Linked DNA regions of Homo sapiens: regions 1 and 2 are each linked to region 3. Evidence: fine-mapped QTL for protein levels in blood plasma. A gene starts in region 3. Each other region holds a variant in brackets. All regions are shown on one strand. Distances are from middle to middle.

Region 1 (8,198 bases), 28 kb before region 3:
TGGACTACCCAGATTTCTCAGGCTAGCCCTGCTTCACTTCCCAGTCTAGGGCTTCCACACTTCACTTTTGGGGAGACAGAATGGAGGCAGTCTATTATAGAAATTCAGGTCTCTTTCAAATTATGAGGTAGTATTGGACTTTTCCCATGATCAAATTCCTTGTAACACCCTATCACCCTGTCTGCTCTGACAAGAGCATGCCATAGCATGCAGGAAGCACTAGCCAGTACCTTCCTCTTCTTCTACATCACTGAGGGACTTCTCCTCCACAAATCCAGAGCTGGCTGAGCTCTGGCTACTGGTGATGCTGTCCAAGCGCCGTTTCAGATCCACAGGGATTGCTCCAACGTAGTCTTTCCCTTGACGGAATCGTGCCCCTTTGGTCTATAAAAAAGCAAAGGAACAAACAAACTCCTTGAATACAAAATGAGTCTTTAAAAGTTTACAACCTTTAAAATGTAGTAAACCATGGAGATAATTGAAACTACTAAAAAGCAGACAAGGAGGACATCAATTTCAGGATTATGCAATCTCTGAGCTGAAACTTGGGGCAAGTTTTGTGCATAATAGGGTTTCTTCCACAAAGCCTAGCTCCTTCTTTAGCTTAAAGTGACAAATGCCACATTTTGAGTTGCATTCAGACACACTTTCAGCATTAGGATGCTCTTCACAGAGGGATTTACACTCCACGGGGCCAAATATGGCTAGGGGAGAGACAGAATAACCCAGAGATGTCCTACCCTCTGCCCTCCCCTTTCCTCGCTCATACCTGCCTTCTCCCCCATGTCCACACTCTGTAATGGGTCAGTAGATTAAAATCACATACATAAAACAGAAACATATGGCCCCCAGAAGGTAAAAGAGGAAGTTACAACAGCCAAGAGGTAATATGAGAAGATTCCTCACAAGTTCTTCACAAAATTTCAACTAAAAAACTAACCTGTACCATTTTGAGTTTCCCTTCATTTTATAACATGGCCAGAGCAGGATTAGGAGATGACATACCTTGTAGGGGACAAATTCATTTCTCTTGCTCCTCAGGTAAGTGGACAGGTTTCCAAATTTGCAGAATTCCACAATCACCATGAGTGGCCCTGCAGGCAGCATGTCCAGGAAGGAAAATGGGTTTTCACTCATATTCCTCACTAAGCGTTTAATATAGTGATGAACCCAAAAACACCTTAGAAGAAGGCTACAACCTTTCATTGGGACAGGAGTGTAGAAATCAGCTGGTCCCAATCCCCTTATATTGTAGCTTTTCTTTTTTCCAGAACACATTTTCACAAGATTAACCAAAATTTCAGAAGAAAACCCACCCATCTACTTGCTTTTCAGTGCAATCTCCTGATATGATTCCATTTTGGGGGTAACTACCCTTAAGCTTTCAAGTTTTAGGGAAGTTTACTCTTCTCTGGACATCTGTTACACAAGTAACAAACTGTATCATAGTAGCATGACATTTCTTAATTCAGAGAAAGTTTTACAATAATTTAATTCTAGTGCCAATTAAACCTCCATGAAATATATTTATTCCTAGGAATCCGCAAAGTATTCTAAGCTAAGAAAATCAAGGCCAGAGGAGTTGACTGCTTTCCCTCAAACACTATCAGAGAGGCATGTTAAAATTGGGTGACCAAAACCACCCACAGTTACTCACCTCCTGGCTTGGTACAGGCACCTAGAAGGTTGACCACATTGAGATGGTGACCAATATGAATGAGGATCTTGAGTTCAGACATGAGAGCTCGATGCTCACTGTGTGTTGCTCCTTCTACAAATACAGTACAAAGAGGGAAATCATAGGTATGGACATTTCCTTCAATAATTGGGGTCCCTCCCTCCCTGCATGCCACTATACAACTTACCCTCCGGGGTAACACAGCTGTGACCTAGTTTACAGACCACATGCATTTCCTCAAAAGTGAAGTGTAAATTCTATTTTCTAATTTGAAATAAAATTCATATTTTAAGTGAGCCAGAAAGTTTGATATTTAAAGGAACCCATTGTGAAACCTTTTGCAAAGCGGAGAATACATCTGCAGTGGAATCATGCCCAGATTCTCTTCTTCTGCAAAACTGGATTTTTGCATTTCAGGTTCACTATGATTCTGAGGGTCTGATCATTTCAGCACTTCCTCATAAGGAAGCAACACCATGTATTAAATATCTTCACGTGTTAGGGGCTATACCGAATGTTCCAGCCAATCTGTGCCGATCTGTGCAGGCGAATTAAGGCCAGCTGGAAAGACCAGTTGGCACATGAGGCTGATGGCACTAAGACTATGTGTTTGATCCTGTATGGACTGCTACACTTCCCACTAATTCACAGGCATGGTCCACATCTAAGGCTCTGATGAGCCACCTCAAAATTACACACTCCCTTGGCCACAAGAGAAAAAAGGCAGATGGAGAAAGATAGCTTTGAAATGCACAAAACCTATTGGCAAAGGGTCATTGGCACTGCCTTCATCAATGAAAGAACATCACAATTGAAGAAAGAAGCTTTACTGTCTAACCTCCTAAAATGAAAATGGCCAGACCAGAATTCCGTTACTATTAGAATTAACAATTATTTATAAAGCTTTTAATTTAAAAAATATAACCCATTATATTTTTTTCTAACACAACCATTCTTGTTTTGCAAATTATCTTTTACATATGAACATCTTTTACATATTCCAATTCTGGAGAACATGCTATTTTTGTATTTCACTATCTTCCTTTCCATGTCTCTAGATGGTCTATAATTATCTGATTCCACAATATATTAAGAAACAATTTTAATATAACCACAGTCCTTTTTCCCTGTACCCAGAACCACTAAGTACAACTGTGTTGGCTGAGCCCTGCACGAGGGTAACCAGGCAAGAAGGTGAAAGCCATTCCCAACTTTGCTTGCCAGACCATGCATCCTGGCATAAAGCTACAAAGGAGGATCCTTTTTCCAATTTGCACAAGGGCATTATTTAGGCTGACTGCATGTGTGGCTAGTAGGCCCACATAAGCACAAAGCTACTGATACAAGCCTTGCAACATATTTAAAGACTAGATAAAACAGAAAGATAGATCACCACATAATTTTGCTTTTACCTTTCAACATTTTGACTGCTACTGTCCTGCAAGTTGCTGTCTTGTCAATTCCAAAGGCATCTGCTTCAATCACTTGGCCAAAGGCACCACGGCCAAGAGGCTTACCTAGAGTCAACAACAACAGCAACAAGAAAACAGACTTGGATTACTATACAACCAAAGTGATACGCAGAGACATCAACTAGATAGGGTGACCATACATCCCAATTTAACATGGATAGTCCAGTTTACTCCTTTGTCCTGGCTTAATTATTTAATAACTCCCCCTTCACTCTCCAAATGTCCTGCTTTGGATGATTACATAGGGACCCTACCTCTAAGTGGCTATATGAATGATTATACAAATTCAAGAAATGGAATTAATATTTCTAAACCAGAATCCAACATCTGAATACACCACATTTGTCATCATTCTAATGGAGGAAGAGATGGCCTGGTAAACACAATATCAAATTAATAGCAATTGAAAATGCACCTAGCTTCAGCCGGTCTCTGGGGAATTCCCATTTGCTGGCATCATAAGGCAGTCGTTCACAATGTTCATCCAATGGGAGTTCATCTGGATCCATGACGATGGACAAGTAGCCTGTCTTCAGTTCCCCTCCATTGGCCTGGAAAGCATCAATCCTTCCAGTCATAAACACACTGTTGTTTGGCTGTTGTTTTGTGTGCTTGTTATTGCTGTTTATTGGAGCCTCATTCCTGTCTCATTTTCCAATAAAACTCATGGAGTTTGAGAGTGGTCCTATTATAACCCTGCTTCTAGTTTCCCTTGTCCCCCAAAGGAGCTCAGAATTAAGGTTTTAAAGCTTAATTACACTAGACAGTCCAAGCCCTTTTCCTCTCTAGTGGCTTCTATCAATTAAATCCCTGAGATCCAGCCAAAAGAAAGTGGGCAGGAACGTTATTGTATTGAAATAAAAATGTGCCCATTGAGCCAATAACAATGGGAAGAAACAACTCAAAGAACCCCAGTCAGTTTTCATTAATCATGAAAACCAATGTGCATGGGCAGAAGGGAAATTATTTTTTTACCCGCTTAACGGTCCGTAGGATGATGACAAGAAGTAGCCAGAAGAACATGGCAATCACCGCCGTGCCTACTAGAATAATGATTTCCAAGTTCGTCTTTTCCTGGGCACCTGGAAAGACACAATTGAATGAGTATCAACAGTTGGAAACTTATACTTTTTGTTTGTAAGATGACAAATTTTAGCACTAAAGCAAAATCCCAAGCTTACCAACTTGGAAAAATCCTAGAGGACAACAGTTACACACCCGTAACTTGAATGGAGTCTACAGAATTCTTTTTTTGAATTTAATTTATTTATTTATTTATTTATTTATTTATTTATTTATTTATTTATTTTTAGAGACAGGGTTTCTTTCTATGTTCCAGGCTGGAGTACCATGACACAATCATAGCTTATTGCAGCCTCCAATTCCTAGGCTCAAGCGATTCTCCCCCCTCAGCCTCCCGAGTAGCTGGGACTACAGGTGCATACCACCAAGCCCAGCTAATTTTTCTTTTATTTTCTGTAGAGACAGGGTCTCACTACATTGCCCAGGCTAGTCTCGAACTCCTGGCCTCTAGCCATCCCCCCTGCCTTGGCCTCCCAAAGTGCAGGGATTACAGGCATAAGCCACCACACCTGGCCTACAGAATTGTTAATGGAAAATTTAAAGCTTGCAAAACATTGCTCATGTAAACTTACAACAATAAAATTCTTAAGTAATTAAGCATAGAAGTAGTAATGTCTTAAAAGCCAAACATAGAAAGTGTTTAGAGGAAGAGCAGTCTTTGATGGAAAGAAAACAGATCATTCTCTACAGAGAAAAAAAAATATTTCTATTTGAGGAAAACAAAAGTCTTCTTTTAAACTGATAGTCAATATTTTGATCTGTGCAGAGTTTGCAAAAGGATCACATAAGAAACCAAGTAGGGAAATAAACAAAATTTTTTGACCTGAGAGTTACTAATGACCATGTATCTACTATGCACTCATCACTTTAAATATGCCATTCCACTTAATCTCCTCAACAACTCTCAGTTTTCAGATGAAGAAACAGAAGACCAGAGAGCTTAAGCTACTTGACTGAGGGCACACAGCTAGTCAGTGGTTCAGTCAAGAGATAAAGAGGCCTGTCCAACATGAACTAACCATTACATACACTACCCCATCCCTTGTGGCAGGAGTCTGAGTGAGGAGAAGAGGAAGAGCCAAGATGAGCACATCACGCATGGCCTGGTAATGGGAGTTTCAAATCACTCATGAAAGGAAAGAGAAGAGGAAACTAGAAGTCAGCAAGCAAAGCTGCAGATGCTCAGGGCTTCAGAGGACAGCTCTGAGTGGAAGAAACAAAATACAGAAACAGGCTTTCCACTAAGAGTGATTAGCAAAGAGATGATAAGGAAGCAGTCATCACTTGGGGCCTCCCATCAGAAGAGTGCAAGGAGAATCAAACCGGGCCACAAGCTGTGCGGATGGCCCACTACGGCCTCAAGAGAGAAGAAGACAAGTAAGAAACTGGTTTGCAAAATAAGTAACAAATTGGTTTGCAAAATAAAAGTTAACTTAACCATTGAGAGACAAGCACAATTATGCTTGGAGTAAATTTTGTTTCTCTGGTGGTCCTAGGGAAGTAATTCTCTATTTATACACACAGATTTAAAAGTCCAGTTGAACATAGAGGATAAAAAGTTCAAAGAGTCTGTTTTCTATGTGTTTGTATATTAATATTCTCGCATAACATTTGGGAACCCAGCAGGAGTATTAAATATCTAGCTCTGCCTTTCTTAGCATTCACTCCAGGTAAGAAGTAACTATAATCTCTGTGCCAGTGTTACCTAGTTAGGCATCTGTAACCAGCTGCAGGCCACCAACAAGAGGTAATGCAGAGCATCAGAGACAATCTAGACGTCATTCTGC[G/A]GATTTGCCCTAAAACATGAATCACTTTGGAAATGACAAAACCGCCATGGTCTTTGAAATCTTTATTTGCAAGTGTAGTTTATGAAATGCTAATAAGCTTATACATTTGAAAATATGTCAACATATCTCGATGCAATACTTGGCATCATAGATTTGGCAGAGTAAAGGGACCAAAATCTAGACTTTGAGAGACAAGTTAGGATGAGTTCATAGAAATCCATCGATCCCTTCTATCACCATACTTCTTTCTTACCCTTGCATACCATTCTTTTACCCCACAACACAGTTTTATTCTTTCCCTGGTGGGCTATAAAAAAAAAAGCCATAGGAATATACTTCTTAAGATAAAATATTCTGCCACAAATTACTTTTCCTAGCTAAGAAAATGACAGATTTCACATCACTTCTGCATACACACGTATTGAGATAAAAACCAAAAATTTTCCATGTCAGAAGAGCAATGGTCTATTGTTCACAAGTGAATCTTAATTATCTCTAGTCCAATTAAAACTCGGAATCCTTGTGACTATCTGGATAGCATTGACTGCCATGATTAGGCAGCAATTCTAATGTTTTTCCAAATAAATATAAAGGCATCATTTCTATAAGTTAATCAAGCCATTCAAACAAAGACAGAATCAGGGAGAAGAGGCTATTCATCCTGCCTGATTAAGAATTTTTCCACAATAAGAACTGCAGGAATAGGAAATGTGATGCAAGCAGAATTATAACAACATTAATTATGTTTGCTGGTTAAAAGAATACATACTCACTGAGAAAATTTACAAAGTACAAAGAATATTAAAAATCATCTGTCGTTGCCCTATTCAAAGTGAATGTGTGTCTATAAGATACAAACTAATCTTCAAAAACCACAGGATGTATCTATGACTTCCCACTGACCTTCTTTTTTTCTTTTAAGTTCCGGGATACATGTGCAGAATGCTCAGGTTTGTTACACAGGTAAACATGTGCCATGGTGATTTGCTGCACCTATTAATCCATCTCCTAGGTATTAAGCCCAGCATGCATTAGCTATTTTTCCTGATGCTCTCCTTCTCCCCAACCCACAGTAGGCCCCAGTGTGTGTTGTTCCCTTCCCTGTGTCTATGTGTTCACATTGTTCAGCTCCCACTTATAAGTGAGAATGTGTGGCGTTTGGTTTTCTGTTCCTGTGTTAGTTTGCTGAGGATAATGGCTTCCAGCTCCATCCATGCAGCTGCAAAGGACATGATCAGATTCCTTTTTACGGCTGCATAGCATTCCATGGTGTATATGTACCACATTTTTTTTTATCCCACTGACCTTCTATTATGAAAAATGCCTCCACTTTTGCACAGCCAAGAACACTGCATGCCTGGCAGGTGTAGAGGCCTTCGTCCTCCTTCCTCACTCTGCGGATAGTGAGGTTCCGGTTCCCATCCTTCAATACAATGCCTAACAGAGGAAGAAAACGATCATTCTCATTTATGATGATGTAGTCTGTGAAGTTTTTCAGGGAAATTTAGAAAATATAAATGCTGCCCTTCATCTTGTTCTATTATCTAACTCTGTAGAGTCACATGGGATCTACTGCTGACTAATCTCCTATATGGCTTTCATGAAAATTCAACAGGGCCCCATACTCCAATTCTAAGTCTGTGAAATGAGCCAGGTCATGGACACCAATACTGCTTTTTTTCTACATTACATCAAGAAATAATATGGCTTTTTAGATAACATCCCTGGGAAAGTTCTGCAACCCAAGAGTGATAGCCAAATTCTATTTACCTGAGTCTTCTACAAGGGTCTCATTATCTTTAAACCACATGATCTGTGGAGGGGGATTCCCAGATGCCGTGCATGAGACTTCGATGCTTTCCCCAATACTTGTCGTCTGATTCTCCAGGTTTCCTGTGATCGTGGGTGCCACACGCTCTAGACACACAAAAAGAAAATCACAGAACATGGAATTATAACTTTTGAAATGGTTCTGGTATCAGCAAACTTTTAAACAGTTTAAATTTAGTAAAAAGGAACTTGTTGATATATTAACTTCTGGGAAAATACACTGGTCACTGGGTAAAGTTAAATGAAACAAGTCAGTCAGGACACTGCAAACAGATTAATGGCTTTTAACATTCATATTAGTGATACTAGCTGGTAATCCCATCACAAAAGAAAGGTTCAGGGTCACCT
Region 2 (4,933 bases), 21 kb before region 3:
ATGTGATCTATGTGGTGTGACTTGAAGGATGCTGGGGATGACTTGACCCCAAAGTATCTCTTATTATGACACCTGAGTCTTAAAACTAGCGAACTTTATGCTAGTGTCTGTCAGAAGGTGCCTCTTCAAATACGCCAAGGCCTCTGATGAAGACGTTACCCTCTAAAACTGTGGTATAGATGAATTTACTTGGGCAATTTCCTTCCTAACAGTAAAAAAAAAACAGAGGGCACATATATCCTAGGAATTGGAAAGGGACACCACAAGAGGAGAAAATGGAGAGAAGTGGCACAAAGAGACGCTCCCCAAATTTGCCTGATTTTCCCACAGACAAAGCCATGGCTGCCCAGCTTTTGCACAAGGCATGAGGTTAGACAAGGGGTAGACAGTGCCTCTATGGAGGAATTTACAGAGCTATCTGCTCACTGAAGTGATCGTCCCATTGACCTTGGGCTACGCTGGATCATGTGGGATGACCCAGAGGTACAGACAGTGAATGTAGCTTCCTTCCCATGGAGTCTTCTAGGTCTTAAACGCAGCCCATCATCCCACTCTTCATGCAGCAGGTGCCTTATTGAGCAGTTAGTATATGCTGCTATGCTCTATGACTAGAGCTATAGCAGGGAGCAAAACAGAGAACAATTCCTGTTCTCATGGACACAGAGACCTCACTGTGCTGTGACTTCCCAGTGGTTGCCTATGTTCTCCTCCTTTCCTTCATGTTTACCACTGTGAATTTCTGACACTCTCCTAGCTCATAGCAGGCATTCCACAAATATTTGTCTATTTAAATAAATGGATGCCCAAGATAAGGCAGAAGTTTCCCTGGTTCAAGCTAATATCCCTTGCATATACTAGTGAATTACTCCATCATCAGGTTTTGTTATTTTCTCCTTTCGATATATCATTTCATTATTATTAGCTTCTTTCTTCCTCAAGGACTTTCGGTGAAGAAGTGTGCACCAGTTTACAACATAATCTCCTAGAGGACAGTAATCTTTGCATAGCACCTGAATTGCACTACATTTAAGGCATTCCAACTGCCTCTGCACAATGATCCAGAATTGTCTCCCTACCTAGGACTGTGAGCTGCCTGACCACGCAATGTCTTTTCTTGGTCTTCCTGTCTTGAGCAAGGCAGACATAGTCTCCTTGGTCCTGCAAGGATGCATTCTTAAGCTCCATGATCAAAATGTCATTTGTGCTATTAGAGAACATGGTGGCATTCAATTTCCAAAGAGTATCCAAGTTCTTGCAAACAGGTGTGGGCAACTCTCCCACATGGATTGGCAGAGGCTGTGGGCCAAGCTTGTACCATGTGAGGTTCTCAAACGTAGATCTGTCTGCAGTGCACCACAAAGACACGCTCTCCTGCTCAGTGGGCTGCATGTCAGGTTGCAAAGTAATTTCAGGACCCCCTAAAATGAAGAGGCCATAGTTATTGAATGGTGATTTAACTTGGTACAGCTCACTATCATCTTGCTGCTTTCAGACTACTACAAAGTACCAAAAGAAATGAAGCTCTATCCGTTCCAGGTGATGTACTACAACTTGACAAACAAACTAGACAATTCAGGTCCCAAAATATCTTATTTGGCCAAACACATTACTTGAAAATGTAAACGAATTCCTCAGATATTTACCACATCTCCACTATGAGCTCTACGCAATGTTTAATATATTAAAAATCCAAAGCAAAATCTCTAATTCTAACAGAATTTTAAAATTAGGTCTTCATTAACACTAACACTCAATGATATGAAAGCTACATTTATGCCAATGAATTAGCCCTGGCTATAATATTCCATTCAGCACAATCAGCTAAAGCTTATCCATAAAACTAAGATGCACAGGCAAAATCGGCAGCATTGGGAGGGCACTGCTCCTATGTCCTTCTGATTGCCTCCATAAAGCCCACCCTCATCAACTGTTCCACAGCAAGCCCACCAATATGTACTGAAGCTCAATAAGCCAGGCACTGTGCCAGACTCTGAAGACTGAGATGTAAATACCACACAGAGCTTGTGGTTTAAAGCATCTGTGAAACCATTCTCTCTCCAGTGTAGTTAGACGCACTGACTTCACATAAGCCCAGGAGATACCTGAGAAGTTGTAATTTATGAATGAAAGCATCAATGATCAATCCAAGTCCTCTTTCCTAAATGCCATGCCACTCACATGAATGGCAAAAACAACAGGGAATTACATAGCTTAGTACCCACTGTGTGAGTGATCCAACCCAAACCTCCAGAGAAGAGTACTTACTGGTCACGTGGAAGGAGATCACCCTCTCTC[C/T]TCTCCCGACTTTGTTGACCGCTTCACATTTGTACAAAGCTGACACATTTGCCGCTTGGATAACAAGGGTACTTACAGTCTGTGCGGGGAAAAAACAAATCCCAGGCCATAAACAACGCGGCTGTTTGTGCACAAGCACTCAGTCCAGCAGTCTCCACAATCACTCCAACCTGCCTATGCCATTCCCACTTCTGCAGCGGTTGGACACGCTCAAATTTATGCAATTGCAGGTTGAGTATCCCTTACTCAAAACGCTTGGGACCAAAAGTGGTTTGGATTTTGGATTTTTTTTTTTGGATTTTGGAATATTTGCATTGTATACTTACCAGTTGAGCATCCCTAATCTGAAAATCCAAAATGCTCCAACGAGCGTTTCCTTTGAGCACCATGTCGGCACTCAAAAAGGTTCAGAATCTGGAGCATTTTGGATTTGGGGTTTTTAGGTTTGGGATATTTACTCAATTTGTATAATTATGCTGCTGTGGAGCTCACACATTATATAAAAAGGGCTTTGGAAGCCATGAAACTAATGATGTGTTTTAATATGATATGATACACATTTTTTCATTCTCATGTTTATAAAATCAGAATCACCCTACACAGATGCATAGATTTAATGTCATAGATGTTTTTATTTTTCTCTGATAAGCTATTAATAAGTTAATGGTACTGCTAAAAGTCAATGGTATTTTCAAAGTGACTTAATACGCTCTATTTAATCATCCAGACTATTTGATTATTAATCTCCAATATGCCTCACATATTATTGTACCATCCTTCCATTAAAGAGAGAGAGATTTTCAAATTTTAAAACTTCAAACTCACTTTGTTTTTTCCTTCAATTAGAGCAAATTGATTTTTATTAACTTCAATTTTATTTCCTCCCTGGAAGTCCTCCACACTTCTCCATTCTTCACAAGGGTATGGGTTTGTCACTGAGACAGCTTGGCTATAAGAAAGAGATAACAGCGCATATTATGATTTAATTTTTCTTTAATTAGAGTCAAGAGTAAGGAAAAGATTCAGACTTTGGTTATTCTGTTCTTAGAAATAACTTCCAACGCAGCCTACCATGGTACAAGACTTGGCGCCAATTAAAAATAGGCATTGACAATGAAGGAAAAGGTTCTAGGTAGATTCATTCAGGATACAGGAGGGAAGCAGCTATTCTGGGAATAAACCTTCATTCATAAATTGGATCGACAAGACAATTCAAGTTAATTTAGTTCAAAGGAAGGCAAGGAAACTTAGAAGCCACTGGGCTCCTTAAAGTAATTTCTCTGGGACCATGGTCTCTGTGAAGGAAATGATCAGCAGCTGAGGAAGAAGCTCATAGTGGCCATTTCAAAAACAACAACAGGAAGTGGACTGCTTAGGGTGGTGGTGGGTTGGCTGCTGTTGTTGTGTTTTTCCCTAAGGATGTCTGGACTTGTGTCAGAGCATGATAAGCTGGGCCTGAGACCCTGAGGACTGGGGCTGGGTCTATCACTGCCTCTCATCTATCAGCATTTCCTCTGAGAGATGGATCTTCACACACACAAGAAGGAGGGATGTGGTATTCACCAGCCGATTGGTATCGGGAGAAAAACCAAAGACTGGCAATTAGCAAACTGAGCAAATAGCCTGTGTTTGGAGAAGTGTACCTCACGGCTAACCTAACAAGGCTGAGCTTAGCTAACCCCAAAGGAGGATACTCCAAGCAAAGACATCCCCTAAAATGTAAGACACAGAGAAAGATGGATGGAGATTCAGGCTACCTCTTGAGAGAAAACTTTTTTTGGTTTAGGCTTCTCCATTTAGGATGGAGTCATATCATAGCTCAGCTGTAAGAAATGCAAGATGGCAGGAAAGCAAAGAGCATGTGGCCTTACTCACCTGGGCTCGTTGGCGCACTCTTCCTCCAACTGCCAATACCAGTGGATGTGATGCGGGGGAGGAATGGCATAGACCGTACATGTCAGCGTTTGAGTGGTGCCGTACTGGTAGGAATCCACAGGAGAGATTAGAGATTTCTCACCAATCTGGGGTGGGACTGAAGATGGGAAAAACAACTTTTGAATTGTCAGTCAGCTTTGAAGAATGGGAAATAGAGGATTTTAGCAACTAAAGCTGACTTTCTTTAAGCATATGATTTTGCTTCCACTTTCTTTTTCGAAGAACACCTAGATGTGGAAACAAGAGACCTGAGTTCTAGTGATACTCATAAAAATAACAACTAGCCAGGCATGGGGGCTTATGCCTGTAATCTCAGTATTTTGGGACGCCAAGGTAGGTGGATCGCTTAAGCCCAGGAGATCAAGACCAGCCTGGGCCACATGGTGAGACCCCATCTCTACCAAAAAAAAAAAAAAGGAATAAAGTAACGAAATAAAATAAAAATGACAATAAGCTAATAATAATAATAAACTAACAAGCTGAATGACTTTATGGAAGTGTTGAAATCCTGTGCCTCTCATCTGTATTACAGAGATAGTTCTCTCTGTCCTCTCAAGTTTAGGAGATCAGGGAAAGGCTACAGAAAACAGCTGAAATAGCACAGTAAATACATTTATTATGTGCCAAGCATTGTTTGAAGTGCTTTGCATGAATTCATTCACTTAATCCTCACAACCACTATTACTGTCCACAGCTTTATACG
Region 3 (8,163 bases):
GTATAAGTAAATACCCAGTGCAAACATCCAGTGCATTGAATCTGAGGATCCCAATATGAACAAATGCAGGCAAAATGAATAAGTGACTGCACATGTTCTCACACACCACACAGATGTGCAAAATAAGTTACTGACATAACTGGTCAATATCATGGTTTTTAAGTCAATAATATGGTTTTTAAAAAACTGGAAACTAAGTTATATCAATATATCTCAGAAATTAACTGGCATTGGTACTGACTTATGTTTAGAACAGTTTTGTTCTTAAGACTTTAGACTCTGTCAGAATATCCCTGGGTCTACAAATCTGCATTTTAACAAGCATTTCAAATTATCCTACCACAGATGGTCTATGGGCCACTCTTGGACAGTTGCTGGTCTGGGTGGTCATGTTTAATTAATTTGCACAGTACTTTGTGCGTGGAACGGGGGTTACATTTATGTTTTAAATAGAGAATGGGGTCTCGCTATGTTGCCCAGGCACTTCTTGAACTCCTGGACTCAAGCGATCCTCCTGCCTCTGCTTCCCTAAGTGCTGGGATTACAGGAATGAGCCACTGCACCCAGCCTGCACAGTACTTTTTAATATGAAAGAAATAACTGCCCCCAAAACAGGCAAACAAAAAACCAAAATGTTTAAAAGCAAAATGAAACCTGGAGTCCCACTTTGTCTAAGAAAAGGAAAATGAAAACAATTCATTTGGATAACACAGATTTCAAACTTGACTGGGGAACACTAGGTTGAGAAAGATGCTGAAAACATGATGTACAATTCACACTGCCATCCAAATGAGAAAAAAACCATTATTTGGGCACATTCTTGTGAGAAAACAAATGGCAGTAAAAATGATTCTCAATAAACTGTGCCCACTCGGCTACCAAAATCAGAAACTCTTGAAGGTCTCTCATAATTTATTGCCACAGATCACATTCTAGACACACTTTCCTGTGTAACAAATATTTTAAAAAAGAAAAGGTATGTCCTTCATTCATAGGAAGCTGAGACTATGCCATACTATTCTAGAGACACGTTTACAACAAAAATCTATTCAACAAGGCTCTCAATAACTTCAAATTCATATTTGTAGACCAACATAGTTTTTTGTTTTTTGTTTTTGCTCCATTAAATGTCATTCGTTTTCATTGGCAAGCTTGAGCTGGACTCTTCAGAAAGTTCTAAAGAAATAACTGTAAGAGGTACACATGCTACTACTCAATAAAAAGCCCTTCTATGTTCAAATCCCATAACCAATATTAATTAATTTGTGCACTGTTACCCTTCCAGCTCAAAGACGGGAAGGAAAAACAACAGTGCCTCTGTCTCTAGAATTTGATGGCACCAATTACAGCCCAATCCAATTAAGCAAGTAATGCACTCCAAAAGGGCAAGTTCACCATTATATTCAGGGCGACCGGCCTGCCGTTACTACTACGCTAGGAAACACCCCAGGCTTAAAAGCAACTCACTTCTTTGTGGAATACAGAGCAACCACATGTTCCAGACCTTCATTCTCTGCCCAGAAAGGGGGAGAGAGAGGGCTTGTCTGGGACAAATGAGTGTCCATGGTGGACTGGACCCGTTGAACCAAGTCATTATAAAGAAAATTCAGTAACCATGGACAGATGATCCTGGTACTGTATGTGGGTGTGAGTGTCTTCTAAGACATGTGATTCTTGTCTTAGGGAGTAAGAAATTTTTTTCCCTGAATTATTCGACTTTTTTTTTTTCTTTCTCTGACCCTTTCCCCTTTCTCACCCTGCAAAGGGTGGAAATCTGGATATCAGCAAACTGGCTGCAGGAAAGAAATATTATCTAAGGGGTTGAGAGAGAAAGGAAAGTGAGGAAGAAAAGACAGACAGCTATTGCATGAAGAACGTGTGTGTTCCTAATTGAAGGAGACGGAAATTTTAGGCGGCAGGGAGAGGAAGGAATGGCACTAAAGCTAGGTACCAAGGCCCACAGGAAAGGTTTTCGGAGCTTGAACTTCTGACTATGCGCTTACACCAAGGACCACAGCGCTTTGAAAGATGTGCAATGCTTTACGCAGGACAGTTGGCTGTTACTTGGAGACCCTTGGGGAAGCTGTCAAAGCCCCCAGGACAAGTCCCTATTCCCCCCCTTCTTCGCTCTGCAAGGAGAGCGGCGTCCTGCACCAAGGAAGGAAAAAAAGTTTCTCTCCGCTCCAGACCCCACTTCACACAGTGGTGTGCAAGTGTGTTCGAGCATGAAGACAACAACGGGCCGGGTCCCGCAAAGAGGCAGAACCGAGTGTACCGTCCGATCCGGGAGACCCGGCCTGAGATTCCGGCAAGGTTTTCTTCCCCGGGCCCGGACTAGGATGTTGCGCGCAGCCAGACAACTTTTCACCGCCTGTTCTCGCCTGCGGAGGCACCTCCTGCCTGCCAACCCCAGGCGCCTTCCCACCCCAGCCTCCCAAGAGCCTGAGGGTGTGTCGGCATCTCAGGACATGCTCCAGCCGAGGTCCCTGTCGCAAACCAGAGTCCTAGAAAAGGAACTGGGCTAGAGCACAGGCGACCACAGACTCGCTGGGTAATCTTGGGCCAGTCTCTGAGCCTCAGTTTCCCCACTGGTAAATGAAAGATCGCAAAATGTCAAGTCCTGTCCAACTCTCCAGCTCTACGATTCCGAGTTAGATCTGGCTTTCAGGTCCTCTCCGCCCTCACCCGACCTGTCTGCCTTCCTCCTCCAGAGTGGGCTCCTTACCCACAGAGGCGGCCCGGGTCTCCACGCAGAGCCACAGGGCGACGGCCAGCAGCACCTTGCTCTGCATCCTGCACCTCGAGCCGGGCGAAATGCCCAGAACTCGGGAGCCGGTTCTTTCTCCCAGCGCCTGTCTAGAGAAGGAGGCGCGGAGGTGGAACTCGCGGCACCCCGCAGCGCAGGACAGTTGAGCGCACAGGGCTAGGGAGCCCGGGCGCCGACCGCGGCTGCAGGGGCGTCTGCGGGTGCCGGTAGGAGAGGATATCCAGGCTGCCAGACGGACTTTCTGCGGCGCGCAAGTGATGCCCGGCGCAGGCAGAGGAAACGCAGCGACCACACATTGACCGCTCTCCCGGGGTCCCGGGACTCAGTGCAGGGTGGGAGCTGGTGCCGAAACTCTAGAGCGCGGAGGCGGGGCCATGCGGGGCGGGGCCGGAGCGGAGGAGGGGCTCTCCCGTGCGGCCAGCCCCGCCCCTCACCCGGGTACCCGGCGGCGATCTCCAGCTCCCCAAGCCCATTTACATCTCCCCATTTCCCCACACAACTGGACTGCGCTGGGCCCCAAGTCGCCCAGGAGAGAACATCCCAGAGCAACAACTTTGTTTCTGGTGTAAATAAAAAGTACTCGGTAACGGGCGCTGAGCAACTCCAAGATTTAATCGCTTGCCGGTCCCCGAAATTTGGGGAGCATCACCAGGAGCGCTGCGAAGAGCAGCGCTCCCTCACCAGGCGCGTCAAAGTGCAGGACCCTCTTCGCCATCGCGCGCGTCTGAAGTGGCCGAGAATCTGCAGCAGTTTGGAGCCACAAGGGAGAAGCGGATACTCAGCCAAGTATGCCGGGTCGCAAGCTGGCAGCGACTCCTGCCAGTAGTTTTGGTTTTTGTATAAGGGTATTTTGTTTGGCCAGTATAATTGTAGTTTAAAAAGCTGAATCTGGTTGCTCTTAATCAGAAAACGCACTTGCCCAGTTCGCCAACATTCCCGCTATTTCCCAAAATATTTGGCGGCTCCAAGTTTGAAGTGACCTGCCTAGCCCCAAGAAGGCTTTTGTCCATCGTGCTCCCCAACGAAGAGCCCTAGTGAAAGTTTGGCCATGCCCCTTTTCAGAGCAGAGCTTCCAGCCAAGATATCCTTAGTCCCAGGGGAAGGAGGCCAGCTGCCAGCGTGCTTCAGTGGAGGAGCAATGAAGCAAAAGCACCTAGGACACTCTGTGACCAAATTGCACAACTGTCTCCACGTGTGTGGACTTCTTGTGGCAGCTGTTTGGAGGGGAACTCCAATTCCTTCCTGACCACATTCGTTCCTTCTGGTTTTCTGTCCATATCTCCCCACACCTGGGGAGTGACATCAAATGTCCCCTAACTTCATTAAATATGAATCTTCCAGATGCCTATGTCTTTTACCTCCCAGAGGTGCTTTTTAATGACAACCTAAAGGACCATTCTTCACCAAGATAAACACACAGAATTATTATATCTACACCTAATTCAAACTAGATTGATTGTATACAATTAATGTAACCTGTTACTTATCTTCATCTGTTTTTAAATATTTACTGTATTCACGCTTTTACTTTTCCAAGTTGACAGGTGAAATATTTTAATGCTGAAATATAATGAATGTATATGGCAAAAAAAAATTTTGGAAAAACACAAAAAGGCTTAGAGTGAAAAGACTTTTCTTTTGGCAGAGGCATTTTTATGTTTCCTTTTTTTTCCAAGCAGATTCTTAAACACAAGTATGTAGACATGTCACCCTTCTCTTCCCACAATTGCTTGGTATAAATGCTATTTGAGCCTTGGCTTTTTTCCCTTTAAATTTGATTTATTTATTTGAGACAAGGTCTCACTATGTTGCCCAGGCTGGTCTCCAATGCCTGGACTCAGTCCATCCTCCTGCCTCAGTCTCCCAAAGTGCTGGGATTACAAGCACGAGCCACCCTGCCCAGCCTTCACTTTATAATATACACTGGAGATTCGTTCTACATCAACCTTTAAAGCTCCATCTTTTATTTATTTATTTATTTATTTATTTATTTATTTATTTTTATATAGAGGCAGGGTCTCACTATGTTGCCTAAGCTGGCTGCGAACAAAGCTCCATCCTTCCATCTTTTCAATGTTGGCATAGTGCTCTACTATATAGATGTACTCATATTTATCTGGGAGGTATTTATTTGGGGAGGGGAGAGAATCTTTAAAGAAACTCCTCTCTTCCTGCTAGTAAACTCAGCAAATAAAATAGGATGGACTCTGGCAAAGTTGGATAAAGGGGTGGGAGATGGAACCTGGTTTGGAGAGGGCAGTTTTTCTCCATCCCCATCACCAAACAATTCCCTATCAGCCTTATTTACAGTTCATGACACTTCCTCTTCCATGTCTCATTTAAGAAGATAGTGTCTCCTCTGAATGCAAACCAGAACCTGCAGGCCCGTGGTAATAGCCCCCTTTAGAAGTCTTGGAGGAAATGATGCGTCTTTGATGGCCGCAAGACCAGAATTTGGCAGAGTCTCAATGAAATCAGTCTACCACATTCCCTCCCACACAGCACTTAGAAGTGCCTTAGGTTCACAAAAAAAATGGCAAAGTCTGTTAAAAAAAAAAAAGATAGAAAAGAAAGAAAGAAAGGCTGTTCCATGTGCAGCACCCTCTCGTTATCTGGCATTGCAAAGGAGTGACTTTTGTGAGTTAACCCAACAGTAAGGCACCTAGCAAAGTGCCCCAAATGTGTTGAGTGTTCCATAGATGCTATTCAGATGCCACAGCAGAGTAGTAGCTAAGTGCACAGACTCTGGATTTTATTCCCAGATCTACCGCTTATGATCTGTGTGATCTTTACCAACTTACAAGTAACTTATCTATGAAACACAAAAAAAATTATAATAGTACCTTCTTCATAGGGTTCTTACAAGAATTAAAGGAGTTACTGCATGTAAGGCACTTGGAGTAGGCCCCAACACAGCTAGTAAAGATCTTGGACATAGAAAGCACCAGATACACATTAAGAAACATTCTGCAAAGGTTGCTTATACTACAATGCATGGGCTTCTTCATGCTGCTGAGATCTAAACTGCTAAGCAGGCTCATTCATTCAACAGTTTTTGAGCACCTACTATATGCTAGGCATTGAACCAGGAACTGGGGTTACGATGGTGAAAATAATGTCAAGATGAGCTTAAATGAGGAATCATTGTAATAGCCTCACCCAAGACAAATTTAATTTAATCTTTAAGCACTTCTTGTCTCCAGCTACTTTTCTGGGCTTGTACATACAGAATATACATTGTTCATACTCAAAGCACACTGCATAAATTACTCTCCATGATCTCCAAATTTGGTTACATTACCAACAGTATTTTGGACTCCATGTCTTAACAAGTTATATGAAGATTTGTCAAAGGTTAATAACTGTGGAAGTTCAATTGCTTCAAAGAGAATAAAATACCCAGGAATCCAACTTACAGGGGATGTGAAGGACCTCTTCAAGAAGAACTACAAACCATTGCTCAATGAAATAAAAGAGGACACAAACAAATGGAAGAACATTCCATGTTCATGGATAGGAAGAATCAATATCGTGAAAATGGCCATACTGCCCAAGGTAATTTGTAGATTCAATACCATCCCCATCAAGCTACCAATGACTTTCTTCACAGAATTGGAAAAAACTACTTTAAAGTTCATATGGAACCAAAAAAGAGCCTGAATTGCCAAGACAAATCTAAGCCAAAAGAACAAAGCTGGAGGCATCATGCTACCTGACTTCAAACTATACTACAAGGCTACAGTAACCAAAACAGCATGGTACTGGTACCAAAACAGAGATATAGACCAATGGAACAGAACAGAACCCTCAGAAATAATACCACACATCTACAACCATCTGATCTTCAACAAACCTGACAGAAACAAGCAATGGGGAAAGGATTCCCTATTTAATAAATGGTGCTGGGAAAACTGGCTAGCCATATGTAGAAAGCTGAAACTGGATCCCTTCCTTACACCTTATACAAAAATTAATTCAAGATGGATTAAAGACTTAAATGTCAGACCTAAAACCATAAAAACCCTAGAAGAAAACCTAGGCAATACCATTCAGGACATAGGCATGGGCAAGGACTTCATGACTAAAACACCAAAAGCAATGGCAACAAAAGCCAAAATTGACAAATGGGATCTCATTAAACTAAAGAGCTTCTGCACAGCAAAAGAAACTACCATCAGAGTGAACAGACAACCTACAGAATGGGAGAAAATTTTTGCAATCTACTCATCTGACAAAGGGCTAATATCCAGAATCTGCAAAGAACTCAAACAAATTTACAAGAAAAAAACAAACAATCGCATCAAAAAGTGGGCAAAGGACATGAACAGACACTTCTCAAAAGAAGACATTTATGCAGCCAACAGACACATGAGAAAATGCTCATCATCACTGGTCATCAGAGAAATGCAAATCAAAACCACAATGAGATAGCATCTCACACCAGTTAGAATGGCAATCATTAAAAAGTCAGGAAACAACAGGTGCTAGAGAGCATGTGGAGAAATAGGAACACTTTCACACTGTTGGTGGGACTGTAAACTAGTTCAACCATTGTGGAAGACAGTGTGGCAATTCCTCAGGGATCTAAACTAGAAATACCATTTGACCCAGCCATCCCATTACTGGGTATATACCCAAAGGATTATAAATCATGCTGCTATAAAGACACATGCACATGTATGTTTATTGCGGCACTATTCACAATAGCAAAGACTTGGAACCAACCCAAATATCCATCAATGATAGACTGGATTAAGAAAATGTGGCACATATACACCATGGAATACTATGCAGCCATAAAAAAGGATGAGTTCATGTCTTTTGTAGGGACATGGATGAAGCTGGAAACCATCATTCTCAGCAAACTATCGCAAGGACAAAAAACCAAACACCACATGTTCTCACTCATAGGTGGGAACTGAACAATGAGAACACATGGACACAGGAAGGGGAACATCACACTCCTGGGCCTGTTGTGGGGTGGGGGGAGGGGGGAGGGATAGCAGTAGGGGATATACCTAATGTAAATGACGAGTTAATGGGTACAGCACACCAACATGGCACATATATACATATGTAACAAACCTGCACATTAAACCTAGAACTTAAAGTATAATTTTAAAAAAATTAAAAAAAATAACTGTGGAAGTTGAACAGTGGTACTTAAAGATTCATTTGACTATTCTCTCTACTTTTACGTGTTTGAAAGTTTCCATGATTAAAAAAAAAAAAATCTGTTTTAAATGACTGTAATCAAAGGGATGCCCAGGCCAATACAACACTAACTTTTCCATTGTCTTTTCCTTGATTTGGTGAAAATAAGGATTTGGAATGTCCTTGAGCATTATCTTTTAATCATTTCAGGCAGCAGCTTCATCATTTGTCAATGAAAATAA

Alleles and levels. Positions count from the first base shown, and alleles are read on the strand shown. Strength reflects both the effect of a copy and how common the allele is.
With allele A in place of G in region 1, the plasma level of the protein whose gene starts at base 3,094 in region 3 is higher (moderate association).
In carriers of allele C in region 2, the plasma level of the protein whose gene starts at base 3,094 in region 3 tends to be higher than with T alone (weak association).

The links. PIP is the chance, under the fine-mapping model, that this variant and not a neighbour inherited with it causes the effect. Protein levels are from antibody-based Olink assays in UK Biobank. Linkage for the fine-mapping came from a reference panel and not from the study's own genotypes, which makes the PIPs less certain.
Region 1: its variant is fine-mapped to the plasma level of the KDR protein (UK Biobank, PIP above 0.99).
Region 2: its variant is fine-mapped to the plasma level of the KDR protein (UK Biobank, PIP above 0.99). The variant lies in the coding sequence of KDR. If it changes the protein, the assay may bind it differently, which can mimic a change of level.

What each region holds. Positions count from the first base shown.
Region 1 is chr4:55,094,572-55,102,769 of GRCh38, forward strand. It overlaps KDR (kinase insert domain receptor), which reads right to left. Exons shown (of 30, transcript NM_002253.4): 14 at 7,791-7,937; 15 at 7,326-7,457; 16 at 4,126-4,232; 17 at 3,566-3,701; 18 at 3,091-3,195; 19 at 1,658-1,771; 20 at 1,006-1,094; 21 at 231-384. Among named protein-coding and RNA genes, the nearest start is that of KDR, 27 kb to the right of the region's middle. The variant G/A (reference allele first, on the strand shown) is at 6,021.
Region 2 is chr4:55,103,567-55,108,499 of GRCh38, forward strand. It overlaps KDR (kinase insert domain receptor), which reads right to left. Exons shown (of 30, transcript NM_002253.4): 10 at 4,171-4,327; 11 at 3,121-3,244; 12 at 2,266-2,374; 13 at 1,077-1,418. Among named protein-coding and RNA genes, the nearest start is that of KDR, 20 kb to the right of the region's middle. The variant C/T (reference allele first, on the strand shown) is at 2,296.
Region 3 is chr4:55,122,502-55,130,664 of GRCh38, forward strand. KDR (kinase insert domain receptor) reads right to left here and starts at 3,094. Exons shown (of 30, transcript NM_002253.4): 1 at 2,726-3,094. The coding sequence starts at 2,792.